7 separate regions of the Homo sapiens genome follow, and regions 1, 2, 4, 5, 6 and 7 are each linked to region 3. Evidence: fine-mapped expression QTL. A gene starts in region 3. Each other region holds a variant in brackets. All regions are shown on one strand. Distances are from middle to middle.

Region 1 (4,062 bases), 46 kb after region 3:
GTGTGAGGCCTGCCCTGTGGCCTTCTCTGTCCCACGCTTCTCTGTCCTCTGACACCCCTGAGTGGCTGTGGGAGGGCCAGAGCACCCCACCCTGCCGCAAGCCCCTCCTGACTCCCCTGGCCTGGGAAGGCCAGGCAGGCTCCACATGGGTGGCGTGGCCTCTCTGCAGCTCTCAGTGGGTGCAATGAGGTGGAGCGGGGCTGGGAGCAGGGGGTGCAATGAGGTGAGGTGGGGCTGGGAGGTGGGGGTGCAATGAGGCGGAGCGGGGCTGGGGGGCACCTGAAGAACTCATAGGAGAACTCCTCCAGGGTGTGCAGCTTTTCCTTGGGTGGCTCCTCAGGACGTGGCTCTGTGAACTGCCCCTCCTGAGCCGCCAGCTTCCTCTTCTCTGGTGACATGGCAAGCAAGCTCTGAAGGGGGCACAGGCCTGTGGGTGCCCAGGAGCCACCGCCCATGAGGCCCTTCCTGCAGGCTCCTCCCGGCCTGGCAGCCTCAGTGACTTGGGAGGGGTCAGGCCCAGGGCTGAACAGGCCAGGGCTTACCCACACCCCTGTCACCTGCCGTGTGACCCAGGACCATGACTCTACCTCTTGGTGCCTGTCTCCTTTCCCTTGGGAGGGTGAGTGCCAATGGCTGTGGCACCCACATCACCCGTTCTGGGGGCCACGGCACTCTGGGTTTCTCAGACCCCCAGCTCCCCAGCTCCCCTTCTCCATGGGGCCACCTCTCACCCCAGCCCTGCCTGCCTAGTCTGCCACCAACTTCAGGCCTCAGCACAAATGTCCCTCCCTCGGGGATGCCTTCCCAGACAGGGTAAGTTCCCCACCCTATTATTTGTTCCTCTCCTTGGTGGCACTTTGCACAGTTGCCATCCATGTGTCATTATCTGCCCAAATGTCTGCCCTGAGGGTGGAGCTGCTATTATGCCCAGACTCGTACCACAGGCACAGGGCACATACTCAGCACTCAGTATGTACATGTTGCAATGCCTGCCATTCCTGCCTCCGGAGAGGCTGGTCTTGGGGGCTGGGGTGGGTGGTTCCCTTGTGCAGGGAGAGACTTGAGTCCCCCTGGGTCAGAGTGTAAATGAGGCAGAGAAAGATTGGGTTTGTCCCCCGGACACCCCCATGATGGAAGAGGGAGGGAACACCCATTTATTGAGGACCTACTAAGTACCAAGAGCTGGGCTGGCACTGCACACACACCTTGCCGCAGGAATGGTGGGGGCTGCCCGGGTGGCCCTCCTGGCCTCTGCTAGGTGGGCTGCAGGCCCTGAGCTAGGCCTCCCAACTAGGCATCCCAGGACTGCTCCACCCTGACCTCGGGTACCCAGGCTGAGGACAGGGGAGCGTGCCAGTTACCAGCAGCTGTGCCGAGGGCTTAGTGACCGTGGGGATGGTGTAGAGGCAGGCCATGGGCACCAGCCCCGTCTTGCCTGTCCTGTCGTTCTGGCCGAGGGTCCAGTTCTCAGAGGCCAGCAGCCCCTGCTTCTTTGTGAGGACCAACAGGTCCCCCTTCTTGAAGGCCAGGAGGGTGGTGTCATCTGTAAGGGCAGGGAGGCTATTTGCTGAGGGCTCTGCAGGGGCCAGAGGCTGTGCTGGAATTTTGTGGGTCATCTCCTTTGACAGATGAAACCGAGGCATAGAGTGGTGGGCAGAAGACCACTCCAAGAGTGAGCGATGGTGGGACTGGAACCTCAGGGGCCTCAGACGGCTGTCACCTGCTGCAGCTGCACAGGCACAGAGCCCAGGGTGGGTGGGGGCTCGAGAGCTCTGACTGCAGCCCTAGCCCTGGGAGACCCTCGGAGGGCTGACCAGGAGCCAGGGATGAGGGAGGGGAGGATGCACAGGCTGGCAGTCCCCACGCCTGGCCTGAGTGCTGCCTGCCTCTCTAGACCCCTTCCTTATCTGGAATTTGGAGATGGCAATCCTCTTTCCCTCCTGCGGTGGCCGTGAGGACTGAATGGGGCGATAGGGCAGCACATCTCGGCTGACATTTCTCACTGCCCAAAGACCCCACACACAGCCTCTTCTGCTACATCCCAACCAGCACCCCCTTCTGAAGTCCCTGCACTAACCACACCACCCACCGCCCATGACCACCCGGCCAGCAGGCTGG[C/G]CCAGCGGGGGTCCTGGGGCTTTGCCATGCTCCCCCATAGCCCACAGACACAGCCCAGCTCTCGATGGAGTGCTGGCTTGTGGGAGAGCTGTGGCCAAGAACTAGGCTCCCACCCCCTTGAGCTGTGTGACCCTGGGTGAGCTACTTCCATCTCTGGGCCTCTGGCCTCACGTCTGTAAAATGGGATAATGGGGTGCTTTTGCAGCAGTGCGCTGTGGGGATGGTGTTCAAAACTTCCCTGGGCTGGGGGCTGGCCTTTCTCAGTGCTTCTGCAGCAGTGCAGCGCTGAGCATGGCTGGCCTATGCAGGGCTGGAGACCACCTCCTTTAGCCCCTCATTTTGTAGAAGAGGAAGCAGTGGCTGAAAGAAGGCAGGGCCTTGCCTAAAGCTGCCCCCACAGAGCTTTGGGGCCTTCCCTCCCTCTGCTTGCCTTGTGGCTGCTGTGTGGAGATGAGCATGCCACCTACCTACAGACCCCATGCGCGGCCCTCCCCCACCCCACCCCACCCCACCCCACCCCACCCAGTCTGGCACCTGTGGCCTTCCTGTCCTGCAGGGCCATGGCGAAAATGGACCTCTCCTTCAGGCCCTCCAGGAACAGGGCCACCAGCTCAGCGATGGCCACACTGCTGGGTGACACAAACTCGTACTCCTCATGCATCGTGGAGAGCAGCAGCCTCTGCCCGCCCTGGGCCTCCCTGGAGATGAAGGACAGCGTGACCAGGAGCCCCCTCCACCTTCCCCTGATCCAGCCCCTAAACAGCCTCGGGAGGTGGGGTTGGGGGTCCTGAGTCACAGATGAGGACACAGAGCTGCTCTGCCAGGGCCAGGACTAGGCCAGACACCACTGTGGGTCTGGACAAATGAAGGACGGCGGAGCACAGGACCTCTCGGAGGCTGAGAGTGGTGCAGCCCATGTGTGGGGTTGGCTGTGGGCAGATAATGAGGTGGCTGGTGTGCAGTGACACCGCAGGGACACTGCAAAGGTCAGAGCTGAGATGAGCTGCCGGCTCTGCCATGTGCTTACTCTGAGCCACCTAACCTCGGCGTGCTTCAGTTTACTCATCCGCTCATCTGCAGAATGGGTGATGCTGTCGGTACTTCGTGGCATACAGGAAAGTGCCCAGCATGGTCAGCCTCAGTGAGAGGTGGCCAGTGGGGAGTGGTGGCCACTGTACACCTGGCACAGCCCAGAGATGCATGTGCCACTCTGTTGTGTGCTTCAACCAAGGGGCGCTCTGGCAGGGCTTGGGTGGGACTTCCCAAAGGGCATGGAAAAGTTCCCAGTCAATGAGATCCATGGAGACCCATGGGAGTGGGGGTCAGCCCCAGCCTAAGAGGACCCCCAGCCCTGCCCTGTGCCCCAGGACACACCAGGCACTGTCCCTTGTCGCCTTCCCAGACAACCTGTACCCTCCAGGCCACCAGTTCTCGTCCATGACAAAGAAAGGAGCCTTCTAAATAAGTGCCCGCCAGAGGCTGCACGCTTCCCTGCCCCTTCCGGGTGGACCTGGGTTTCAAAGAGAAGCTGCCAGTGCAACGCGTGATGCCCCAATGGAGTACTTCATGGGCAGTACGGCCTGGTGCAGGAGGGTGGGGCTCCGAAGTACAGAAGCCATCGCATACGTAGATTCTTGTCCCTCCACCCCGGCCTGTTACCCGGGACGGCACACTGCCCCTCTCCCCATCTCTCCCCGAGCCCCCAGATGCATCACAAGGACTCAGTGTGTAAGAAGAGATCTTCCCTCAGGGCCCGCACCTGTTGGTGGCCAGACCCATGACCTCTGGGAAAGAGAGTTCCAGCAGCATCTTCTCCTGCTGGTCCAGGAAGCAAAGCCCCTTCCAGTTAACAGCCAAGATCAGCTGCGTCTTGGGCAGGCGGGGGCCTGGCCAGGAGAGACGGCAGTGTGAAGGCTGCATGGGACCCCTGGGTGCCCAGCCCAT
Region 2 (4,062 bases), 160 kb before region 3:
TTACAGGCACCCGCTACCACGCCCAGCTGATTTTTGTATTTTTTTAGTAGAGACAGGGTTTCACCATGTTAGCCAGGCTGGTCTTGAACTCCTCACCTCAGGTGATCTGCCTGCCTTGGCCTCCCAAAGTGCTGGTATTATAGGTGTGAGCCACCACACCCGACCATAAGTTTAAAATTCTCATAGTCACATATGGTGAGTGACTAATGTATTGGACAGTGCAGCTCTTAGCTACCAACAATGACCTGCAGGGCACTGAGATCAAAGAGAATTTCAGCAAGATGAACAATGCCCACAAGAGCAGCAGTGATAACAGGAACATTAATCAAACGTCGATCCCCCAAATTCTGAGATCAAAAGATGCATGTCACTTTCACTGAGTCCTATATTTCGATGTACCCTAAATTCTGTTTTTAGAAGTCTGCCTCTTCGGCCAAGGCAGCTCCTGACAAGCCCCCCAACAAAGGCCGCCTGAGGCGGCGGTGGCGCCTGCAGGGACCACTAGCAGCCGCGGGCTGAGGGGAGGTCGGGACCGAGGCAGGGCTGCTGTATCCCACCAGAGGAAGGCCGAGTATCCCAGCGCGGGAGGAGCAGCCCCCCGTGCCAGGCCTCCCGATGTCCCCAGGCAGCAGCCCCAGGCTGCAAAATCCCTACCTCCAGTTCAGGGCAAGAAGAGTCCACGACTCCTATGCCAACAACTGATAAAGATTGCAAAGAAGAAAAAGAGGAAGATGATTCTGCCCTCCCTCGGGAAGTTTACATTGCTGCATCCAGACCTAGCTGGGGATGGTGCAGTAGGAGCAGGACATGTGTTTCTCCTCATGGTGATACAGAGAACACCTGAAGCTCTCGGTGCAAGACTGGTTCATTGCAGCTCATCTGCAAATCAGAACCAAGTACAGACCAACTCGATTATGATGTTGGAGAAGAGCATCAGTCTCCAGGTGGCATTAGCAAGGAGGAAGAAGAAGAGATTAATCAGTGAAGAGGAGATGCTATTCAAAGTTGACCCAAGAGATGAGACCTACAAACCCCTCTTAGAAAGGGAAACCCCAAAGCCACGCGAAAATCAGGGAAGGTGAAAGGAGAGAAGGAGAGGAGGGAAATTAAAGTGGAAGTAGAGGTAGAGGTGAAAGAAGAGGAGAATGAAATTAGGGAGGATAAGGAACCTCTGAGGAAGAGAGGAAGAAGATGGAAAGATGGCAGAAGTCCACATTTACCCAGAAGGAGAAAAAAGCCTGCAACCCAGTATGTCCGTTGTGAGATGGAAGGATGTGGAACTGTCCTTGCCCATCCTGGCTATTGACAGCACCACGTTAAATAGCATTTGTTGAAGAAAAAATACGTATGTCTGCATCCCTCCTGTGGACTACTCTGTAGGCTCCAGAAGCAACTTCTATGACATGCCAAACATCATACAGATCAAAGGGATTCTGTCTGTGAATACTGTGCTCAGGCCTTCAAGAGTTCCCACAATCTGGTAGTGCACCAGATTGTTCACATTGGCGAGAAGCCGTTATTACAATGTGAGATCTGTAAATTTACTTATCGGCAAAAGGCGTCTCTTAATTGGCACATAAAGAAGCATGAGGCCGGGCGCGGTGGCCCATACCTGTAATCCCAGCACTTTGGGAGGTCAAGGCGGGTGGATCGCCTGAGGTCAGAAGTTCGAGACCACCCTGGCCAACATGGTGAAACCCCATCTCTACTAAAAATACAAAAATTAGCTGGGCGTGGTGGTCCATACCTGTAGTCCCAGCTACCCGGGAGACTGAGGTGGGAGAATTGCTTGAACCCATGAGGCAGAGGTTGCAGTGAGCCGGGATCATGCCACTGCACTCCAGCCTGGGCGACAAGAGTGAGACTCTGTCTCAAAAAGATAAATAATTAAGGCCGGGCACACGCGGTGGCTCACGCCTGTAATCCCAGCACTCTGGGAGGCCGAGGTGGATGGATCACGAGGTCAGGAGATGAAGACCATCCTGGCTAACATGGTGAAACCCCATCTCTACTAAAAATACAAAAAATTAGCTGAGTGTGGTGGCGGGCGCCTGTAGTCCCAGCTACTCGGGAGGCTGAGGCAGGAGAATGGCATGAACCCAGGAGGTGGAGCTTGCAGTGAGCCGAGATGGCGCCACTGCACTCCAGCCTGGGCCACAGAGCGAGACTCCGTCTCAAATAAATAAATAAATAAATAAATAAA[G/TAAATAAAG]CAAAAATTAAAGTCTGCCTCTTAGTCCAGGCGCGGTGGCTCACACCTGTAATCCCAACACTTTGGGAGGCTGAGGTGGGCGGATAACAAGGTCAGGAGTTCAAGACCAGACTGGCCAAGATGGTGAAACCTCGTCTCTACTAAAAATACAAAAATTAGTTGGGTGTGATGGCGGGTGCCTGTAATCTCAGCTACTCGGGAGGCTGAGGCAGAGAATTGCTTGAACCCGGGAGGCGGAGGTTGCAGTGAACTGAGATGGCACTGCTGCACTCCAGCCTGGGTGACAGAGCAAGACTCTGTCTCAAAATAAATAAATAAATAAAGTCTGCCTCTTTATCACTAATGCTGTCAAACAAAATTATGAAAACTGTTTTAAGGAAACATTGGGGAATAGTGAAAAGATTAATCTTTTGATGATAACCTTTTGTTTGTTTGTTTGTTTTGAGATGGAGTCTCACCTCCCGGGTTCAAGCCATTCTCCTGCCTCAGCACCCGGAGTAACAAGGATTACAGCCACGCACCACCACGCCTAGCCAATTTTTATATTTTTGGTAGAGACGGGGTTTCACCATGTTGGCCAGGTTGGGCTTGAACTCCTGGTCTCAAGTGATACGGCCACCTCAGCCTCCCAAAGTGCTGGTATGAGCCACTGCACCCAGCCAATAACCTCTTTTCTAATTAATTTTGCCTTTTCAGTGGGCATATAACCTGTCTGTTGAATTTCAGTCTGGGCACCATGGCTCATGCCTGTAATTCCAGCACTTTCAGAGGCGAAAGCAGGAGTATTGCTTGAGCCCAGGAGTTAGAGACCAGCCTGGGAAGCATAGCAAGACCCCGTCTGATTAAAAAGCAAAAAGAAGGAAAGGAAGACAGAAGAAGGAAACAAACCCAACATGTTCACCTTTTAGGTTTCCAATATCTATATTTTGTAATGCTACTAATATGGGCCCTGCACAGGAATACTTCCAGATTCACAGACTGATGTCTTTGTAAATTCAGACCAACTTCTGTTTCCCAAGTCATATAAACACCCTGAGACCATGCATGTCCCAAATGTATTCTCCTTATTAATACAGAGTTTAACACATCCTCATATTCAAAGGGAACTGGAAGTTATGAGATATTTGAAAACCAATACTTTTTAAACTCAGCAATGACAGAAGAAATAAACGATGGAAAGACTTGATCATGTAAAAATTTAAAACTTAAAAGTCACTTTTTTTTGGAGATGGTCTCACTCTGTTGTCCAGGCTGGTCTTGAACTCCTGGGAAACCACCCATTTCAGTCTCCCAAAGTACTGGGATTACAGGCATGAGCCATTGCACACAACCAAAATCATTAACTTTTTAGGAAGTCAATAGACTGTCTAAAGATTTGATAAGATGTATAGCAGAGAACACAGACAAGGGTGAGGATATTTATTTGTGGCTGGGCGCGGTGGGGTGGCTCACACCTGTAATCCCAGCACTTTGGGAGTCCGAGGCGGGCGGATCACCTGAGGTCAGGAGTTCAAGACCAGCCTGGCCAACATGGCAAAACCTGGTCTCTACTAAAAATACAAAACTTAGCCAAGCGTGGTGGTGGGCAACTGTAATCCCAGCTACTTGGAAGGCTGAGGCAGGAGAATTGCTTGAACCTGGGAGGTGGAGGTTGCAGTGAGCTGAGATTGTGCCATTGTACTCCAGCCTGGGCAACAGAGCGAGACTCCATCTCCAACAACAACAACAAAAAGATGTGGGCTGGGTGCAGTGGCTCACGCCTATAATCCAGCACTTTGGGAGGCCGAGGTGGGAGGATCACGATGTCAGGAGTTCGAGATCAGCTTGGCCAACATAGTGAAACCCTGTCTGTACTAAAA
Region 3 (4,062 bases):
AAGCTCATGTCACCTCAGGGCTGTTGCACTTGCTGTTCTGCCGGAATGCTTTTCCTGCAGATGGCTGAGGGCTGGCTCTTTCCCTTATTCTGGTTTAGCTTGAATGTCACCTGCTCAGAAACTTTCCCTCACCCTTCACTCTAAAGCAGCCACCACCATTGTCCTTTTCTTTGCAGCACTTACCCTTGTCTAAAATCTAGTTTGCGTATTTATTTATTTGTTTATTGCCCATCCTCCACCTCCTGCTAAACTCCATGAGAGCCTGGTCCATGGCTTCTTTCTCCCCCTAGTACTTCCAGTGCCCATGCGGTATAAATACTCTTGAAGGAACAAGTGGATAAGTGTGTGAATGTGTGATTGCCAGCTCTTTCCTGCAACTCTGCCCTCTTGGCTGAACTGTGGGAGGCTGGCCCTGGCTCCTTGAAGCCTCTGCATCTCCAGCAGGGCTAAGCCATGCCCACAACCCCTACCAGCTGTTACTGAGCTTGCCCTGGCCCAGGGATGAGGCACACTGGGAGCTGCATAGGGTCCTGGTTTGGCCACATACAGATCCGTGTGTGCTCAGCTATCATATGCAGGGAGGCTTTTGGGCTAAAAGGCAGGAATGTGGTCTCCTCTGTGGAGAGCATGGGCCTCTGGTGTAATGCTTTCAACTTTTCATCCTCTTTGGTTCCCACAAGACCCTGATATTCAATTAACCGTCCAGCAGTGGATTTCTGGTGCACGGCCCCAGCATGCCTACACCTCTGTGTCAGTAATGGTGGAAAGCCTTTCTCCCTGTATGAGCAGGTGAGCCAAGAAATTATCCATACTTAAGCTTAATCAACCATCAAATTACAGTTAAGCCGAATCAGCTGAGACACGCTCGCAACAAGAAGTAATAACTCGAGACAGTCGGATCACCTGAGGCCAGGAGTTTGCAACCAGCCTGACCAACATGGTGAAACCCATCTCTATCAAAAATACAAAATTAGCTGGGTGTGGTGGCATATGCTTGTAATCCCAGCTACTTGGGAGGCTGAGGCAGGAGAATCGCTTGAACCTGGGAGGCGGAGGTTGCAGTGAGCGGAGATTGCACCATTGCACTCCAGCCTGGGCAATAAGAGCGAAACTCCGTCTCAAAAAAAAAAAAAAAAAAAAAGTAACAACTGCAAAGGCACTCCACAATACCAGCCACTTAGGAACAGGTGTCTTTTCCCAGCTTATTTCTGCAGGTGGAACTGCAGGATACTATCAACTCATCTTTCTGAACGGCACCAGTTTATTTGTGGGTTGCTAATTCACACCGTCATTTCTAGATCATCTTTCTCTGCTGCCAAGACCGGAGTAGCACCACATTTACACATCAGGCCGCCCAGCTCCCAAACCTCAGTGTGACATCTGGGCTGCTTCCAAAGATGAGCTGCACGCCACTGTCCAGCTGGAAATATCTGCCTTTAGGCAGGGCGGGGGTTTTTTGTTTTGTTTGTTTGAAAATTTCCTCCGAAGAGATTCCCTAAATAGTTTATATTACCCCTCCATCTTAACGCCTCTAATGGTAGCTTCTCAGCGCTTCATTATACAGAGGCGTGCCTGGTTCCCCTGGAAACCTGGGAGCTGGGCATTTGGTTTTGTCGTTTAAGAAATATCTTTCGCCAAGTTAGGGCGATGGCCCGCAACGGGGGATGAAATCGGAATTTCCCGGGGAAAGCAGCTTTGCGACTGAAGAGGGACGCCTCTCGGCTTTAGCCTCCCTGGGGGCGGGACTGCGTGGACTCGGCGGTCCCGGGTGCCTCGGGAGGGAGTCAGTGCCCAGATCCGCGGTGGGAACTCCGGGCTAGGAAAGCCCGGGAGGGAGGTGGTCTCAGCATCGCCCCCACGCCTACCATCTCCTGCACGCGTTTGCGGTTGGGGCGGCCCAGGGACTGCAGAGGGGGCGCCGGGCGGGGCGTCCCGGCGGGGCTGTGGGGGTGGGGGTGCTTGTTCGCGTTTATTATAACTTTACTCCCTTTAAAAGGAAAGCTATGCCCGGAATCCAGGAGGTGGCGAGCAGAGCCCGGGTTGGGAAGGACTTGACCCGCGCCCGCCGCTGGCCGCGCTCCGTGTCCCTGGAGCTGGGGCTGTGCGGGAGCGGGGCCCACCCTCTACCTTTACCCCTACTTTTACCCCCACTCCCACCCCCGCCTCACTCTCACCCCTCCAACCCCACCGTCAGCCCCACCTTTAACCCCCACCCCTCCAACCCTACCCGCCGCCACCCCCACCTGCCACCCCCACCCCCACCTATACTCCCGCAACCTCCCACCGTCACCTCCCCAACACCCCCACCACCCTCAGCCTTGACCTCCCCATCCCACCCCGCCCCGCGGGCCCCACCCTGCCACCCCCGCCCACCCCTCTCGCGGGCGGAGCGGCTCTTGGCCTTTTTTGGGCGTCTCCCTGCTCCGCGGCCCGGGCTGGCGGGCGGGCGCTCGGCTGGCGGCTGCAGCAGCAGAGGGAGACCCGCGGCAACCCCGGCAACCCAGGGCTCGGCGTCGCTGCCACCATGACGGGAAGGTAACGGCCCCCACCCACGCCCCCGGGCCGGGGAGGCGGGACTGCGGGACCCCTGGCCGAGGCGCAGCTCGCCCTCGTACAGCCCCGCGGCGCCACGATCCCCGCTCCGCCCTGGCGCGTCGGATTCTCGCAGCTGCCGGGGCGGCAGCGCCCGTCGGGGCAGGGGTCCCCCAGCCCCCGCGCCTCTTCCTCTGGGCGAGCGCCTGCAGCGGAAGGTGGAGCTCCTGCCCACCCGCCCGCTGCAAGATGGGACAGCCGTCTGCTCACAACCGACGCCCAGGGCTGCGGGAGGGGGTCTTGTCCAAGGTCAGACACCAACCACGGGCAAAAGGTTCAAAGGTTGCGTGCCTCCCCCAACTTCCCCGAGCCCGCGCTGTGCGATCCCCGATCCCGGTGAGTGTCATCTCTGGAGCCTTCCGTTTCCTCCTCTGTAAACCTGGGGTGGTAAAAATGTTAAAAATGTTGAAGGGTATGTTGGAACTTGGCCAGAGCTGCGCCCAAGCACCAGCTGTGCAGGGGTTGGTTGGGGACAGGGCGCTCCCCTGGGCCTGGCCCACCCTCTGCTCTCAGGCCCCTCGTTGCCATTTCACAGATGAGGTCACCAGAGGCCACAGAGGCTGAGCCACTCAGGAGGCCAGTCACAGGTCCACCAGTGTCCGGCCAGTGTTTGTCCCTGCAGCCCTTTCTGGAACCTAGCTGGGTACAAGTGCATGACTCAGGACTGGGTGGGAGGGGGCTGTCCCTGAGGCCCTGGTCTCCCCCAGCCAAGTCCTGGCAGGGGGATGCTGTTCTTCAGGATCCCATGACCTGGGGCTCTTGGGGAGCCCCAGCCCGGAGAGTGACCTGTGGCTTTGCTGGGGAAAGGGGCTTGGAGGGTACAGGGCAGTGTCCAGGATTGCAGTCTCAAATCCGAGGCCCACAGGGGAGCTGCCTCTGTGATCGCCATTAAGGCTGTGGCCTGGGGTCTCAGGGCAGCCCAGGAACCAAAAATAGCCTGTAACTTGTCACTTTGTAAGTCCTGCCCTCCAGACACACTTCCCTTTCTTCTCCCCAAGCCTCTCTTCCCAGTTAGCTCCCCTGACTTGGAGTCACCTCTAAGCCTTGGCCCAGGCCCCTCTGCAGTGAGATGGAGGGACTCATCCCCCGGAGAGTGGCATCTGCAGGCCCACTGGCTGCCTGTGGTCACCCCCTAGGGTTCTAGCGGGGCTGCCTCCCATTTTCCTCAGAGCATCCCTGCCAGCTGGCTGGTTCTCACTCTCCTGTTTTCTAGGAAAAGAAAGTGGGGAGAGACAGGAACAGGGTCCGGAGCAGCCCCAGCAGCAGCATTGAGGTGGAGGTGGGTGAGAGGCGGTTCCTTCAGGCACAGGAGGGATGTCGAGGAGAACAGAGCCGTGAAGGGTGCGGGGCTGGAATGGGAGGCCCCGAGGTGCCACTGCTCCCTGGCAAGGGTCCTCTTGCCCCTGAGTCCCTTGGGCCTTTCCCTGGAGACGGAGGCCGTCAGGTGAGCCCGGCCGGAACCGCTGGGAA
Region 4 (4,062 bases), 56 kb after region 3:
TTTTTGTCTCACAGAGAGATGTTATTTCTTCTGCCTTGGGGTGGGGAGGAACAGCCTGGAAGGGTTTACTGGTGTCAGGAGCAGCCTGAGTGCCATGCGCAGATGGCTTCAGTGACCGTGGTTCCTGCTGTCCCCAAAGGGACATGTGAGAAAGTGTTTTCTGTTTGATCACAAGGACCCTGTAACACCACAAAAGGCCAGAAGGAAATATTAACGGAAGTTAGCTCTGAGTGTGGGGGTGACTTTTATTTTGGTTTTAGATGTTCTGCATTTCCACATATTACTTTTATAATCAGAATTTAAAGGCATATTAAATCAGTGAAGCTTGGGGCCACTAACACTCGGCCAACCCAGCTCCATTTTCAGTCCTAAGAACTAGAAAGAGGTGCCGTGGCACATCTCCAGGCAGGGCCCACTCCTGGACACCTGTCTTTTCAAGGCCCGTGTCATCTACCTTCTCATTTTAGTCTTGAAGCACCATCCTGACACCTGAGCCAAAGTGAAATGGCCCTGCAGACCCTGCGTAGGGGCTGGAAGGAGCCAGGAGCAGGGTCCTCTTTTCCAGATGGGGAAACTGAGTCCTGGAGAAGCATAGGCATGGCTGCCCATCTGGCCTGCAGGAGCAGGAGAAATGGGCCACGTACTGGAATCTGTGGACCTGCTCCAGGGCCAGGGGCCACCTACGCTCCCACCAGAACCTGCCCCCTGCCCGCCCTCCCTTCATGAACCCTCTCACCTTCATGAACCTCTCTGAGGGTGGGAAGCAGCCGAGGCAGAGGCTGAGCAGGATCCAGCCCCGGGCCAGGCTGCTTGTTTTGAAGTTCTCCGAGAGCTGCTTGCAGATCTGGCAGTAAATCTCATCCCTGAAAGACACAGACCATTAGGAGAGTAGGCTGGGGGCTGGAGGAGGAGAGGAGACAGGGGTACCTGGGCACACAGCTCTTGTGCACCTCTGAGAGGTCCCATATGCAGGGCACCTCTCCAGCGCCGGGGCCCTGCCCAGCCTCCTCCTCTCTCAGGACAGTGCCACCAGGCTCTGCATCCCTACTCGATTCCTCTCCCATGGCCTGTGCTCTCGGTCCTTTAGGGTGGGGCTCGGCTTCAGGAAGCAGCAGGTTCTCCAGCCACAGCCCTGTCCTCAGCAGCCGCGCCCTTTGCACAGCCCATCTGCTCCCAGATGTGCGGGATCCCCAGTCTCACGGTGATTACAGTCATTTCTCTCTCTGCCTTGAGGCCCCACCTCCCTCCCTGAATGCAGCCCCTCCCCTCCACAGCAGAGAGAAAAGTGAGGACTTCATGGGAGCCACTCAACCCCATCTCCTGACCATTCCTACTCCCACGGTCTGTGGAGCCTCCCCACTCCTGGTGGGGGTGTGTTGGGGGCGGTTCTCTCCTGCGTCCTTCCCCATGGACTCAAGCCTCTATCATGTTATAAAAGTGGCCCATTAACACCTCAAATGCCACATCTCCAGAGGCCAGCATCTTTCCCCTAATACTCAGTGGTGTGCTGGTAAATGTTTATCAACCAGCTCCCCCAAGAAGAAAAGCCCAATTCACAGCATTTGCTTATTTCTGTGGTGTACATGTTCCCACCAAAGCCAATGTCAACTGCGACACGACATCACCGAACAGAGATGGGAAGCAATGTGCATGGCTGGCTCTCTGAGTTCCTGCATCCCTCCTCTTTCTGTGGTCTACAGGCATCGCCATCAGCCATTCACCCAAACTGGAAATCTGGGGGTCATCCTGGAGCCCTCCCATCCCTTCATTCCTCCAATCCAACCAGCCCCCACCATCCATCCAGCCCCCACCACCCAGCCGGCACCCACTACTCAGCTGGCGCCCACCACCCAGCCGGCCCCCACCATCCAGCCCCCACAACCCAACCAGCCCCCACAACCCAACCACCCCCCACCACCCAGCCAGCCACCACCATCCAACTGGCCACAACCCAACCAGCCCCCACAACCCAACCACCCCCCACCACCCAGCCAGCCACCACCATCCAGCTGGCCACCACAACCCAACCAGCCACCACAACCCAACCGGCCCC[C/G]ACAATCCAGCTGGCCACCACAATCCAACCAGCCTCTACCATCCAACCAGCCCCCACAACCCAACCAGCCCCCACAACCCAACCAGCCCCCACAATCCAACCAGCGCCCACCATTCAGCCAGCCCCCACAACCCAACCAGCCACCACAATCCAACCAGCCCCCACGATCCAACCAGTGCCCACATGCTACCATCTGTCTCCTGCATGTTTCCTCTGTCCCCTCCTCTTGGCTCCTGTTCCTTGGGCAATTCCTCATCAGCTCTCTCTGGATCTCTGTAGCAGCCCTGCCTGGCCTCCCAGCCCCAGGCTCCATCCTGCCACATCGCCAGGGAGGTCTTTCTGGAAGTCAAATATGATCAAGATCCTCTCTTGCTTAAAACTTTCCCCACTTCCCTTAGGATGGAATCCAAGCTCCATGCCCCAACAATGGCAAACCACTCATAAATTCCAGACCCTGTGGGCTGTCTCAAGGGTGACTGATGCAGGCCGAAAGAGTGAGGGTCGTGATCAGCTCAGTATACCACTGGAGGCTATATGAGCAAACAGCAAACTGTTCTCATAAAAGCAGAATGTTGGCAAACTGACAAACTGCGTCTGCCGCCCAGAAGGAATGCTGAGGGCAGTCACGACCCAGGCACAAGTGTTTCTTGTGATTATCTACAGGGCACACCTGAAGCCTGTTAGTAATAATATGAACCTGTGATCAGTTAAGCAGCTGACCAATCGTTACCTCCTCCTCCCTGCTTATTCTACCCAATAAATACTAAGGGCTGAAGAAGCTTGGGGTGGGGGCTGTCTTTGCTTACTAGGAGTAGGGAGCCCTTTTTCTTCCCCTGGCCCCTTTAAAACAGTTTCTTTTGTTTTAAGTTTTCATTTCTACGTTCATCCCCCTTCGTTCCGTCTCGTAATGACGGTCTCAAGTAGTGACAGTAGTAACTCCCGTAATGACGATCTCAAGTAGTAACAGTGGCAAATTGCTGCAAGTGCTGCCTGGACAGGGACGTAACAGGGACAATCAGGGACAAACAGACCTGAAGGGACCTGAAGAGGCCTGCAGGGACAAATAGAGATAAGTAGGGATAAATAGAAATAGAGACAAATAGAGAGAGCTAGGGAAAGACAGGGACTTGCGGGAACTAACAGGGACTATAGGGACAGATAGGGATAGACAAAGACTAGCAAGGACTAGCAAAGACTAGGAGAAACTTGCAGGGACAGACAGGAACAGATAGGGACAATAGGGTCCTATAAGGACTTGAGCGAGGAAGGTCTGCTGGAGCAAAAAAAAAAAAAACTAAAGCCCAGAAAAAACTAAAACCAACCAGATGAATAAGAAACCCCGTTACAAGGCCGGGCGCGGTGGCTCACGCCTGTAATCCCAGCACTTTGGGAGGCCGAGGCGGGTGGATCATGAGGTCAGGAGATCGAGACCATCCTGGCTAACAAGGTGAAACCCCGTCTCTACTAAAAATACAAAAAATTAGCCGGGCGCGGTGGCGGGCGCCTGTAGTCCCAGCTACTCGGGAGGCTGAGGCAGGAGAATGGCGTGAACCTGGGAAGCGGAGCTTGCAGTGAGCCGAGATGGCGCCACTGCAGTCCGCAGTCTGGCCTGGGCGACAGAGCGAGACTCCGTCTCAAAAAAAAAAAAAAAAAAAAAAAAAACCCCGTTACAAGTCTGCTGGCAGCATAAGGTCAGTGCTTTAAAAAGGTACTGGTCAGTGTCCTAGAGGTACAAAGAACGGGAAGTTTTTCAATCAGGGTAACATGGGGAAGAATTTGGTTCTCTTCTCTTTTTTGTTTGGAGTTTGGTACATACCATTTTCTTGTCATTTCAGGGTTTGAGAGAATTTTTTGCCCCACCTACAGCACCTATCGAAAGTGGTGAACGGGAGAGGAAGGATGAAAATTGGCTTGTACCGTCTTCTTTTGCAGCTACAGAAAGGCGAACTTTAGCTTTGTCTTTCGTGGCTTGTAAACGTGCGCTGGTACCTGTGAGATGTGCAGAGGAC
Region 5 (4,062 bases), 28 kb after region 3:
CCCCACCCTCAGCAGAGAAACCCACTCTTGTTTTGATTTTAGTCAACTCAGAAGATTGAAGAAGGAGAGTGAGGGTCCCAAACACTCTGCCTCCCCAACCCAGGCCTGCGAGTGGCAGTGTGGGCAGGCGGTGGGGCCAGAGCAGCCCGCAGCCCGGAACCAGGGCAGGACAGCGCACCTGGCCTGCCTTTGAATTGGGGTCACCAGCGGGCTTCGGCCAGGTGGGTGCTGATGATGGCACAGCTTCTGGGGCTCCTCTGGGCACCTGGCTTCCCAGTATCCACCATCCCCACCCTGCACAGCCAGGCTGAAGCAGAGGCTGGAGAGAGGTTTGCATAAGAGAAGCTGGCATCCTGCCTGTGCCCATTGTGGCAGCAGGAGGGGAGGAGGCACGGGCCACAGCCCTGGCAGGGTCCTCATCCTGGGCGAGCCTGGCTCTGCACCGAACAGCCGGGGTCCTGCCTGCAGCAAATTCACTCTGCACATTTCTCCCTGCCCTTCCTTCCTTCCTTCCTTCCTTCCTTCCTTCCTTCCTTCCTTCCTACCTTCCTCTCTCTCTCACTTCGCTTTGCTTGTTTGCTTGCTTTTCTTTATTTTCCTTTTTTCTTTTCTTTTTTCTTTTTTTCTTTTCTTTTTCCTTCCTTCCTTCCTTTCTTCTTTTCTCTTTCTTTCTTTTTCTTTCTTTCCTCCCTCCCTCCCCTTCCTCCCCTCCCCTCCCTCCCCTCCCCTCCCTCCCCTCCCCCCCTCCCCTCCCCTCCCCTCCCTCTCTTTTTTCTTTTTTTCTTTCTCTTTTTCAAGGTCTCCCTCTGTCACCCAGGCTGGAGTGCAGTGGTGCAATCAGCTCACTGCAGCCTCAACCTCCAGGGCTCAAGTGATCCTCCCACCTCAACCTCCTGAATAGCTGGGACTACAGGCGCACACCACCACACCCGGCTAATTTTTGTATTTTTTGGTAGAGACGGTTTTGCCATGTTGCCCAGGCTGGTCTCAAACTCCTGGGCTCAAGTGATCCTCTCTCCTTGGCCTCCCAAAGTGCTCCTTGGCCTCCCAAAGTGCTGGGATTACAGGCATGAGTCACTGCGCCCAGCCCCTCTCCTCTTACTGATTCCACAGGGCTGTCTCAGGATGCTGGTGGCACGGGGCAGAGAGGGCATGGTGACTGTTCATGGACACAGCAGCCCCTCGAGGAGGAGGCTGGAGCCATCCTCATATGGAGGAGAAGCAGGCATGGTGGTGGCCCTAGCCCTAGGGAAGGGTGGGCCGCACCCTTCCTTCAGGAGAGCGAGTGGCCAGCTGCTGTGGCCCTCACATGGAGGGTGAGGGCTGGCCCGAGCACCTGGCCATCAATGTCCTCAAGCAAAGGGGAGGGCAACTACCTAATAATATTACCTTTTAGCTATTTCTCTAGGCAGGTTCCCCTACCTGAAAAGATTGCCCCCGGCTTCAGAGTGTTTCAAGATGCCTGAAGTTCTAACACCAGAGATGGTTTCCTGCTGCTTCCAGGAACAGGGTCTGTTCTTAGTCCAATGTGGAGTTCCTCATGGGGACCCCATTCCCCAGGAATCCAGGTTCCACAGTACTCTGACTTGGTCTGGCTGGTCTCGGCTGGCACTTTCCCTAGGACTGCTAAAACCACGGTGA[G/A]GGCGGAGAGCTGAGGGCCGAAGAAGGCGGGGTGAGTGATGCTTGGGAGAGGGAGACAGGCTTGGCTGAAGCCCTGGGGAAGGGCTGAGGGCTGTGAAGGGGGCTGTGGAGGAGAGGTAAAAGGAGGGAGGAACACAGCCCTTGACAGGGCCTGTGAGGCAGGGGAGAACAGGGAGCAGGTACCGGTGGGACGGTGGCAGGGGAGGGGGGCCCATGACTTTGAGGGTGTCGTGTTGCATGTGCTGGGGGTGAGGACCCGGAGACTGGAGGAACAGGGCTCCAGGGCAGACGCATGGGCAAGCAGAGAGGACAGCCCATGGTAGATGGGAGGGGCACACAGGTGTGCTGTTTTCAGGTTGGCAGGAGAGGAGGAAGGTGTGTGCGGGGAGGCCCTGGAGACTGGAAGAGGAGAGGGGGCCCAGTGAGTGAGGGGCCCTTGTTAGAACCTGGGGGTGGGAAGGGGCCAAGGTGGGTGCCCTCCACCCCAGGCTGTCCCTCAGGCCTGTGCTGTGCCCCACAGTGCAGGCATCACCTGGCCCCACGAGAGAGCAGCTCATAGGTACGACTGACCACTCTGCCTGGCATGGTGGGGGCCTGCCTGTGCTGGCTCAAACCAGTTTTAGCCCCATGTTGCAGGTTAGGGAGTCAAGGCTGAGTGTCTGCTAACTTGTCTTAGGTCACTTGACCAGGGGACATTGGCCCTGGAGCTGGAAGTGAGACCGGGGAAACGGTCTCACTCCCTGGAAGACCGCCAGGGTGGGGAGTGTGACTCAGTCTCAGAGTTTGCCATGGAGTTGTCTCCCAGGCTCAGCACCCCCTCCTGGCCCTGGGGCCACTCCCTCATTTTAGGGGCCCATGTATGAAATGAGAATGTGCAGCCCCTTGCTCAAAAAGGAAGAGTTTCAGGACAGTGACGGCAGAGTGTTACTGGGCTCAGGGCCCTGAGTGACGGCAGGGGTGGCATATCTCATGGCACCAGGTGGGCCTGTGGTGCCTCCTGCCTCCAGCCCGGGGGCCTCAGCCTGGGCACTGCCCTCCACTTCCTGCCCGGGCCGAAGGGCGTGCCCCTCGCTCTCTCTGGGACTGAGACTCCATTTTAAACAGCTTTCTGGTTGGTTTCAGGTTTGCTGAGGTTTCTTCTCCCTTTCTGTCCCCCGTTTGAGGAGTTCTGATACTGATTGTTGCAGTTTGGTCTGAGATGGGCCCCGCTTCACTCTCTGTTGCCCTTTAGAAACACAAACTTCAGTCTAGACTCGCTGGTTCCTCACGACTCACTGGTCAGACGGCCACCGAGCCGGTGTCCGTAAGAGGAAAGGGCGTGGCATGGGCCGGGGCCTGGGCAGTGTTGGGTCCCGTGGCTGTGGGTGAGTCGAGCATCTAGGACAGGTCATAGGCCTCTGTGGAGGTGGCAGGTGGGCATGTGTGGCCTCGGGGAGGGCCTGTGGTGGCAGCGCCATGGCCAGGTGGTGGCAGTTTCCTTTGCATTAGCGCCACTCCATCCCTGGCCCGAGCCCTCTCCCAGGCATCTGGCTCCTCTATGGGTCAAGGCTGCCTAATGGTTAGGGGCAGCGGTGCTGTCATTGCAGCCTGGACTGCCGGCAAGCCACTTCCCCTCTGCAAGCCCCCATCAGAGGGACGAAACACCGCTTTGTGGGCTGCTGTGAATTCAGACTGTGGTCAGCCTTCGATGCACAGGTCAGACCATCACCAAAGAGATGGGACGAGACAGGCTGCTGCCTGTCTCCCTGGGCAGGGCTCCCCGCTGAGTGTTTCCTCTGCTTAGCCCTGGGCTCCCAGTCCACCCCACCCAGCCTGCCCCTTACCTCTAGCTGCTGGTCCGGGAGGAAGGGACAGGGGTCTGCGGGGCAGCAGGTGATCTCCGCCCGTGGGTGTCGGTGGTGGCAGGGGGCTCCTTGCCGCTGTGGGTGGAACGCTGGCTATTTAAGGAGAGGAAGGGAGACCACAGCCCCTCTGGCCCTGAAAGGCTGCTTCATTCCTGAGGGGTCCCTTGTTGTGTCGGGCTGCTCCTCTGGCTGCTGCTGCTGCTGCCACCGGAGCGTGAATATTCTAGTGTGTCCCTAGCCCATGCCCCCCGCCCCCAGCTTGGCCACATAGTCTGAGTGTGTGACTGTCTCAGAGACTCAGAGCAGGCGGGGGCTGGGTGGGGGGCTTGGGCTGGAGCTGAGGGACACAACAGGACGTTTCAGAAGGGGATGATTTCCTACTGATGGGGGGCAGGGAGGGGCCGGCTGTCATGGCAACAGGCGGCGCTCCCAGGCCTGCGCCCGCAGACGGCGGAGGGGGCCTGTGAACGGAGGGTGGGAGGCCGAGGAGTCTTGCTCACGGAGTGAGAGGCGACTCTTTGAGGACACTTGCTGTAGGGTCCTTGTGTCCTGCCCTGTATAATGAGGCCCCATTTGG
Region 6 (4,062 bases), 41 kb after region 3:
GACACACCGCAGAGATGACTGCAGCCCCACCTGCACAGGTCCCTGGACCTGGTGGCCCCCAGCCCCTCCGGAGGCCCAGCAGCTACCTTGGTCTTGGGGTGGATGAGCAGAACCCCATGTCGGTTGATGGCGATGAGGATGACGTCCGGGTAGGAAGGCTCCGAGGTTTGCTGGGAGGGAGGGACACGGCGGTCATAGTCCAGCCCGGGAGGCCAGGCTGCACCTCCCAGGAGCTCATCTAGGCCACACGCACATACACACATACACCCACGCCCTCCAGCCTCACGGCCAGCCCCACCCAAGATGTGTGCTGGTTGACGCTGGGCCTGCTGGGGCTGGGCTGAGCGGAGCCTGCTTGGGTAGGAGGCCCTGGCGTGGGGCAAGGTTTACCTTCACCTCGAAGAAGGCGGATCCGAAGGTGGGCCACCGGCAGATCCACTTCAGGAAGGCCACCTTGGCCTCCTCCACTGTCTTGTCCTTATGCTTGTCATAGGCTAGAAGGATGCTCTGGGGGACAGGAGGGCCAGTAAGGACTTGGGTGCCCAGAGGCCCTCCAAAGCCCTGGTGGGGGCAGCACCTGCCTACCCCAGGGCTAGTACGGTGGGGAGGGGAGGGGAGGAATGCAGCATGGGACAGTCTCGGTGCTGTGGATGGCATAGGAAGGCGTGGTGTGTGCAGAGCCAGCCCACCCTCCACACCACCCATGTGCACCCATGTGATCTTGGAGCCCAGGCAGGGCATGGCACTGGTGCAGGGGCCCAGGGAGGAGCAGCAGCACAAGAACCCTTCCCCAGCCCGACCAGGGACCTTTTTCCACTCCTCCGAGGACATCAGGCGTGTGAGGTTCTCAGGCACCAGTTCCCTCAGGATCTTGGGGACACTAGCCAGCTGGGACCGGTCGTTGTTGAACTGGGCCTTGTAGATGAGGCCCGCCAGGTGGATGGCATCCTCCCGCGAACACTTGTGGAATCCGCGCAGGTACTTGGGCAGCTCCTGGGTGATGGACACACTGGGCATGCTGGGTCTCCAGCTGCGGCCCACCCGCCCCCAACCTCTTTCCCGCTCAGATGGTGGGGAACTGGGGCTTAGCCCACTCCATCCAGGACGGACTGAGCAGGGTAGAGAGTTTCAGGCCAGGGGAATGACCCTGAGTCAGGGCAGGGCCCCCTGACATCTGCGTGGAGGTGATGGCCTGCTCCACCCATGTGGTTGGCCCTGCAGGCCACGGCCACTGCTCCATGGGTCACAGGACCCTCTGTCCCACCCTCTCCAAGTCATGCTGCAGGTGCCAGTGCAGTCACTGTCCCCAAACATTGCTGCCCTCTGCTCCTGGTTCCAGAGCCCTCAGGGGCTTGGTCTGCCTACCACATGGGCTGGTACCCAGGGCTGAGGCTGGCCCTGCCCTGGCCTGCTGGCTTCTACAGCCTCAGAACAGGTGTGGGAAGATGGGGGTGGCCCCAGTGCCCACCAGGGCAGCCTGCCCGGTACCTGGTGGTAATGGAGTATGGTGTCTGCATTCACATCCTTCCCTGGAGATATGTTGAGCCACAATTTCCGCATGAAGTACACCTGGTAGGGGAGCGTCACGGGGGCCCCTGGGC[G/A]AGGGCCAGCAGTGGGCACCAAGCCTGTCCCAGCAGGTACACCAGCCCTGACCCCCTGCCACCCCCCACACTGCGCCTGCCACCTCCCTGCCTCGAAAGCCCCCACGCTTCTTCCTCCCCAGTCCCCACATTTTCCTTCAATATTAGTGTAGAGGCTGCCTTCTCCAGGAACATTCCTGGACTCGCACTCCCAGCCCATGAGGGTCATGCCCCTCAGCCCTGGGGCATCCTTCATCACTCCAAGGTGCAGCCACCTGTTTCTGCCTGAGCTGGCCCTCACCGCCGGGCCCCAGGGCCTGGTTGTTCCCACAACCCAGGGACACACGGGAACGAATGGATGGATGAATGGGCATGGGCCGCACAGAGGCCGCCAGTGCCCCCTCGACCCACCCAGCCACGCCCTCCCCCAGCTCCACAGAGGCCTCCTCACCTTCTTTCTGGGGCTTGTTCTTCTTCACCCAGTCAGACACCTCCCTCAAGGAATCAAAGAAGAAGTCTCCCTCCTTCTGGCTGATGACCTGGGGAAGGGGAAGGTACAGGGAAGTTGGGTGGCTTCCGGGGACTGTCCTCCTGAGAACCTGCTGGGTTCTGGTCCAGTGGCCGCCTACGGCCTGGGTGCTGCGCTGGAGTCGGCTGTGCGTGGGCTATTGGCGTGTGGAGCTGGCTCTGCTCCAGGACCCCACCTACCTCTGTCCCAGCAGCCCTGGCCGTGCAGCCTGGTCCAGCATGGGTGCCCCTGGTAGGCTGAGGCCCCCACAGGCAGCACCTAGGGCCTCGCTCACTGCCCGTCCGCCCACCGTCTGCCCAGCCCCAGCCCGGCCCACCTTGTCTGAAATCTTGATGAAGAGGCTGCAGCCCTCCCAGGAGGCCAGCTGCAGCCTGGTGGCAATGCTGTCACACACATCCCGCACCCGTGTGTTGGCAACCACCTCCAGCATCTGGACAGAGAGGCAGCTGGTGAGGCCCGGGGCCTGGCTAGGGGCCAGTACAGCCCAGGATGAGCCTTCCTAGCCTGGCACTTTTGCTCCTTCATGAAACTTGGGTTGGATGTGGTCTGCCCTGAGCAGGGCAAGCCTCCCTTCCAGAACCCTGGCCAGAGGTTCATGTTGTTTAGTCCCAGCATTCGCTGTCCTGGGGCCCTGCAGGCCTGGCCTTTTGACTCGCCTTGAGAGCCCAGCAGCCAGACTGTGGGAACTTCCTGTTACCGGGACCCGAATATCAAGGCCAAAAAGACCATTGTGCTGTTGGAGAGGGCGCGAGGCGACACTGCCCACTTTGGCCTCTCAGCCCGCTTGTCTTTGCTGCCCCTGATCAAGGCCTCTGTGTCACGGTGGGGTCCTGGTGGTCTCCTACCTGCCCCCTGGCCCCTTTGTTCCCCCAGCAGCCATGGCAGGCTCTGTGCACAAGGCACACACAGTGGGAATACCTGCTCTCCTGCACCCCAGATGGTCAGAAGCCCCTAGGGGCCCCCAAGTCCTGGGACTCACCCTTGCTGCCCACCCCTCTGTCCTCTCCTGTGTCCTGGGCCTGGATCCCCCAACTCATACCTTGGGACTGGCCTGACTTCCAAAGCACCCAAGGGCAGGTGGGGCCTGCATCCCATGGGGAGAGGGCGGGAGACTGGTTAGGATGGGACAGCCCTAGAAAAGGCTCTCTGGGGTTACCAAGGAGCAGGCTGGGCCAGGAAGGAGGATGCCCCATGGCCTCTGGAGGCCTGAGACTTGCCGTGCAGACCAGAGCAGGGCCTCACCTCACTGGTGTCATTGGGGAAGTAGATCTTGTGGCAGATGCGGGAGACGTTCTGCTCTGCGGCCTCCACCTCCACCTGGTGCGGGGGCTGCTTCCGGGGCCCCGTCCTGAGGGGGACAGCGTGTGCTGCAGGTGCCACCCCCACCCTCATCCTCACCCATGCCCCAGCCCCGATGTGGGCCCTAAACCATGTGCCAGAAACAAAAGAAAACCCCAGTGACCATCACTGGGGTGGTTCCAGCCCCTCGCATGTCCTGGGGGCTGCCCCTGGCTCCACGCGGCCTCAGAGGTAGTGATGGTGCAGCTGTGCCTGAAAGCCTGGGGCACACACGGGGAAGGGCCAGGCCAGGGGCTCCCGGGAAGGCGCCGGCAGGAAAGGCTGGCAGTATTCTTATTCTCGCACAACAGGGGCATCGGGCAGGGGCCAGGGACTCTGGCAGGGCCTCTATGGGGCGCCCACCTCTCTCTGTGACCACGGCTGCCACTGAAATTATGGCCACTCCTACAGTCAACCTGCCCTCCTCACGGCCACAGGAGGCCAAGCCAGAGGAGGCAGGAGGGGTGGGGGAGAGCAAAGACGGCCAAGGAAGAGCTTCACGGCTGTGGGCGGATGAGGGAGGCCGCATGGACTTGGAAGGATGGGCCTCTGACCTCAGCCTTGAGGGCCTGGGCTGGGGCATCCAGGTTTCTCTCTATCCCTCAGGCAGTGCCT
Region 7 (4,062 bases), 33 kb after region 3:
TGGGGTCCAGGGAGGGATGCTGAATGGGTGGCCCTGGCATCTGGGGTCTGCCCACCATAACCTGGGTGGGGATCTTGGGTCTGCGATTGGATCTCTTCCGTATCCTCCCTGACCAGCCTGTCAGAGGGGCCAACACTGGGCGTCGGGCAGCCGTGGAGGCTCGTGAGGAGTGGAGAGGGCCCCTGGGGCTGGGGGGCCTGGGAAGGGAGGCCTGGATGCAGCAGGAGCACCAGAGAGAGATTCGGGTGGCAGGTGGAGACGGGGGCCAGGGAGGTTGGATTGGGGCCTTTGTGTATCTTTGCCTGGGGACTCTGAATCTAGATTCCTGCCACCTTTGAGGTCCAAGGAAACAGAAACCATGTTGATTTGTCTCTCCGTTGAGAACACAGCTGTCGTCCAACACAGCGAGTAGCATCAGAAATTATTCTGAGGTCTTCACAAAAAGACTCTGTAGTGACAGTTCCTGGGTTTGGGGGCCTCCATCTGACATAGCAGTGCTTGTCTTTGGAGACAGAAATCGCCTGTACGTGTTTGGGCCCTTCTTCATCTGGCAAACCCCGAAGGAAGGGGGTGAGTGGGCCTCCCGGGACACTCACTGGCCACTCTGCTGGGCACAGTGACACTCATTATAACTCGTGTGTGTTAAATACATTGGGAAAATAATGCTTTCAGCAGATATCAATTAAATGTCTACTGTATTCTGCAGCATGCCCCAGGCTTAGAGAAAGTAGAAAGAGGAAAATACCATCCAGAGACAGTAACCTCGAGCATTCTGGCATCTTTCCTGCTGAGCATGCGTCCCATTCCCAGGACACACTTGTGACCTTCTGGGCCTTGTGACAGGGCAGTCTGCTTTCCCATACCCTGGGCTGAGCCCCTTTGAAGCCCCCAGCTGCTCAGTGAAGTTGCAGGGGTCTGGCCTCTCTTCTCCTGGAGGTGGCCAGGCTGTGTGGGAGTGGGGGCTCTGCCCCTAATGCCCCCGCCTCCCGCAGGCATCTCTGCCGGCCTTGCCACAACCGTGAGAAGGCCAAGGGCCTGGGCAAGTACATCTGCCAGCGGTGCCACCTGGTCATCGACGAGCAGCCCCTCATGTTCAGGAGCGACGCCTACCACCCTGACCACTTCAACTGCACCCACTGTGGGTAGGTGCGCAGCCCGGCCCTGCAGTTGTGGGGGCGGGGAGCCAGGGCTGGCCCAGGGTAAGGGCGGTGGGGCCTCCACCTGGGGAAGTGTTGAGGAGGGAGAGGGGAGCAGGGTGGGCAGACAGAGGGGTCCCGAGAGCAAGGCTGCAGGGCAGAGGTGGGCTGGGGGCTGGGAAGCAGCCATGGCAGGAAGCTTCTCTCTCCAGGGCTCTGTTTGGGGGGCACTTGAGACTCAGGAGGCGGGTGGGCTGGACCCCTAGACTGCAGACGAGGGTTGAGATGGAGCAGTGGAAGGGACCTGAGGGGGCAGGGCAAGAGACCGGGAGTGGGCTTGGTGCTGGTGTTGGAGAGAGGAGTTGCATAGGCAGCCCCTCAGCCCCCGTCCTCGCCCACCCCCACCGTCCCCTCCAGTCCTCTCCGTGCCTATCCAGACACCCCCTCTGGTTTGGAGGAGGAGGGGGGCCCAAGAACAGACCTGCTTCTCAGAGGCCTGGGTGCAGAACACAGCCCACTCTTCTGGGCTGTGCAGGAAGTCTGTGCTCCAGGGCCTGTCTGGGGCACAGGAAGTCTTCAAAGTGCCCAGAGATCAGAAGGCGCTGCCGCCTCGGCTCTGCAGGGACAGAATGGGCCCCTCGGGGAGCCGTGCCCTGGGGTGGAGGCGCTGCTGGCATGACCCTGCAGAAGGGCAGGGGTGGCACCTGGGGGCTGCACGCTGTCTTCCAGGAAGGAGCTGACAGCCGAGGCCCGCGAGCTGAAGGGTGAGCTCTACTGCCTGCCCTGCCATGACAAGATGGGCGTCCCCATCTGCGGGGCCTGCCGCCGGCCCATCGAGGGCCGAGTGGTCAACGCGCTGGGCAAGCAGTGGCACGTGGAGGTGAGCCAGGCTGGTGGACACGTGGCCTCAGGTTGGGGGGTGCCCCAGCTCAGGGTCATGGTAAGAGCCCTAAAGCTCCTCCACACTCCCAGCCCAGGGCGGGTGGCTGGCTCCCAACGAGGCCCTTCCTCAGGGGTACTGCCCCTCCCTGTGCTCAGCCAGGGACCCCAGCCTGCCCACGGGAGCCAGGAGACCCGAGTGCACACACACGGTTGGGTAGCTGTGCCCACCTCTCCTCTTCCCCCTGCTGGCATTCTAAGAGACTCCAAGGTCAGGAGAAAACCTTGGGGGCAGTCTGTCCAGAGTGCCTGGGG[G/C]TTGTGGATGACAGAACCCGCTGCATGGACAGCCCTGTGCAGACACGGAGCTGAAGAGTTCCTCAGGTGTGAGCACTGGGTCACCTGGAGTGCCCCCACCGGGTGGTGGGCTCTCATGTTCTCATGGGTACACTGGGAACAGTGAGCCCACCACCTCCCCTGATGACCTGGCCAGCGCTGTGTCCGGAAGCTGTGCCTTGGGTGGCGGCTTGGGTGGGAGGCCATGCGGTCCTGCCCTGATGCAGGCCCCAGCCCCCAGCCCTCATCCTCACATGCAGATCCCTGGGGGAATGCAAGGTGCTGCTCAGTGATCCCAGGCTTGCAGGGGGTGCCTGCAGGAGGCCCCACGTGGACAGGCAGGGCCGCCTCTGCCTATGAGGGCCCACCATGCCGCAGCACCAGGCTGGCACCTGACTCCTGGGGCTGAGGCTGCCGAGGGGGAGGCCAGACTGGGAGGGGATGGTGACTCACAAGGTTACCATCAGTGCCTTAGAGGAGGGGTAGGGTCTGCTGACCCCAGGGCATTCACAGAGGTGTCAGTCCCCTCTGCCCAGTGTGAATCCTGAAAGGCCTGCACCTGCCCAGACTCTGCTTTCTGTCCCCTTCTGTCACTGCTGCCTCCTGGGGCCACTGTGGTCCCCTGGAGTCACTGGCTCCTGGGGTCACTGTTGTCCCCGGGTCACCACTGTCCCTCGGGGTCACCGCTCTAGCCCTGATGCCACCCGGCCCGCCCTTTGTCCTTGCAGCACTTTGTCTGTGCCAAGTGTGAGAAGCCATTCCTGGGGCACCGGCACTATGAGAAGAAGGGCCTGGCCTACTGCGAGACTCACTACAACCAGGTGAGCCCGGTGCAGAACCTTCAGGGATGCGGGTCTGGAGGGGTGGCCAGGAGAGCTGCCGTGAGCAAGGGAGGCTGTGGGCACCCCCTCAGGAGCTCTGCCAGGTGCTGAGCCCAGGCCTGCACCCTCAGCCCTGGCTCCTGGCCTGGGGTCTCGAGACCTGGGCAGCTCTCTTCAGTCTCAGTGTCTTCCTTTGAAGAATGTTCTGGGGCTGGTGTGAGGTCCCGGGCACATGGGGCTGACAGTGCCAGCAACCCCCTCCCTCCCTTGCTCTGGTACAGAAGGCAGGGGGCGCTGGTGGGATGCAGTCACCACCTGGGCCCACCTCCTTGCAGGACAGCAGTGGCCAGAGCAGAGGGGCCTTCTGGGGAGCAACGCCCCAGCCTGTTGTCCTTCCCGGAAGGGTGGTTCTCATGGGTTGCCGTGCCCTCAACCCAGCCTTGCAGCTGGGCCCTGGGAGGCAGGGCCTGGGAGATGCCTGAGAGGGGCCGTGTTGGAGGGCCAGGCTGGCTGCATGATGGCCCTGGGCTGGGGTGTGACTGCCTGCAGCTACTCTGACAGCCTGCTCGGCCCACAGCTCTTCGGGGACGTCTGCTACAACTGCAGCCATGTGATTGAAGGCGATGGTGAGGCCCTGTGTTCCCTCCCCCACCCCACCTGCTCTCCTGGGGCCTGGGTGCTGCAGCTGTGAGCCCAGCCGGGCCTGCGGCAGCCTAGCCAGGCCTGCTGAGTCCCACGCTTCCCTCACAGTGGTGTCGGCCCTCAACAAGGCCTGGTGTGTGAGCTGCTTCTCCTGCTCCACCTGCAACAGCAAGCTCACCCTGAAGTGAGTCCCTGTGATCGTGGGATGGGGCTCAGGGTGGAGGGGGCTCCTGCAGGTCCTTCCTCTCAGC

Direction of the effects. Positions count from the first base shown, and alleles are read on the strand shown. Sizes are in standard deviations (SD) of each study's normalised expression. Not every link is listed here.
For the expression in tibial nerve of the gene that starts at base 2,019 in region 3, A is the high allele of the variant in region 5 and G is the other (moderate effect, 0.48 SD a copy in GTEx).

The links.
Region 1: its variant is fine-mapped to the expression of LIMS2 in whole blood (INTERVAL, PIP 0.97).
Region 2: its variant is fine-mapped to the expression of LIMS2 in whole blood (INTERVAL, PIP 0.98).
Region 4: its variant is fine-mapped to the expression of LIMS2 in whole blood (INTERVAL, PIP above 0.99).
Region 5: its variant is fine-mapped to the expression of LIMS2 in tibial nerve (GTEx, PIP above 0.99). The same link has a PIP of 0.9 or more in aorta, atrial appendage, breast, esophagus mucosa, esophagus muscle and gastroesophageal junction.
Region 6: its variant is fine-mapped to the expression of LIMS2 in whole blood (TOPMed, PIP above 0.99).
Region 7: its variant is fine-mapped to the expression of LIMS2 in lung (TOPMed, PIP 0.94).

The regions. Positions count from the first base shown.
Region 1 is chr2:127,627,126-127,631,187 of GRCh38, reverse strand. MYO7B (myosin VIIB) reads right to left here. Exons shown (of 48, transcript NM_001393586.1): 33 at 3,878-4,004; 34 at 2,653-2,816; 35 at 1,362-1,543; 36 at 280-410. It overlaps MYO7B-AS1 (MYO7B antisense RNA 1), which reads left to right and starts at 404. Exons shown (of 3, transcript XR_923314.3): 1 at 404-813; 2 at 1,629-1,751; 3 at 2,675-4,062. The variant C/G (reference allele first, on the strand shown) is at 2,119.
Region 2 is chr2:127,838,134-127,842,195 of GRCh38, reverse strand. It overlaps the pseudogene ZFP91P1. Among named protein-coding and RNA genes, the nearest start is that of POLR2D, 18 kb to the left of the region's middle. The variant G/TAAATAAAG (reference allele first, on the strand shown) is at 2,204.
Region 3 is chr2:127,673,487-127,677,548 of GRCh38, reverse strand. LIMS2 (LIM zinc finger domain containing 2) reads left to right here and starts at 2,019. Exons shown (of 10, transcript NM_001161403.3): 1 at 2,019-2,535. The coding sequence starts at 2,525.
Region 4 is chr2:127,617,141-127,621,202 of GRCh38, reverse strand. MYO7B (myosin VIIB) reads right to left here. Exons shown (of 48, transcript NM_001393586.1): 27 at 737-863. Among named protein-coding and RNA genes, the nearest start is that of MYO7B-AS1, 12 kb to the left of the region's middle. RefSeq lists an enhancer at 955-1,004. The variant C/G (reference allele first, on the strand shown) is at 2,054.
Region 5 is chr2:127,645,647-127,649,708 of GRCh38, reverse strand. The region is part of intron 4 of LIMS2 (LIM zinc finger domain containing 2); the gene reads left to right. GPR17 (G protein-coupled receptor 17) reads right to left here and starts at 3,556. Exons shown (of 2, transcript NM_001161417.2): 1 at 3,465-3,556. RefSeq lists an enhancer at 22-749. The variant G/A (reference allele first, on the strand shown) is at 1,642.
Region 6 is chr2:127,632,653-127,636,714 of GRCh38, reverse strand. It overlaps MYO7B (myosin VIIB), which reads right to left. Exons shown (of 48, transcript NM_001393586.1): 40 at 3,352-3,457; 41 at 2,426-2,539; 42 at 2,032-2,119; 43 at 1,489-1,595; 44 at 808-993; 45 at 391-507; 46 at 87-170. Among named protein-coding and RNA genes, the nearest start is that of MYO7B-AS1, 3.9 kb to the right of the region's middle. RefSeq lists enhancers at 1-862, 3,159-3,388 and silencers at 3,659-3,708, 3,809-3,898. The variant G/A (reference allele first, on the strand shown) is at 1,602.
Region 7 is chr2:127,640,003-127,644,064 of GRCh38, reverse strand. It overlaps LIMS2 (LIM zinc finger domain containing 2), which reads left to right. Exons shown (of 10, transcript NM_001161403.3): 5 at 993-1,142; 6 at 1,866-2,016; 7 at 3,077-3,169; 8 at 3,747-3,795; 9 at 3,920-3,995. Among named protein-coding and RNA genes, the nearest start is that of GPR17, 4.1 kb to the left of the region's middle. The variant G/C (reference allele first, on the strand shown) is at 2,331.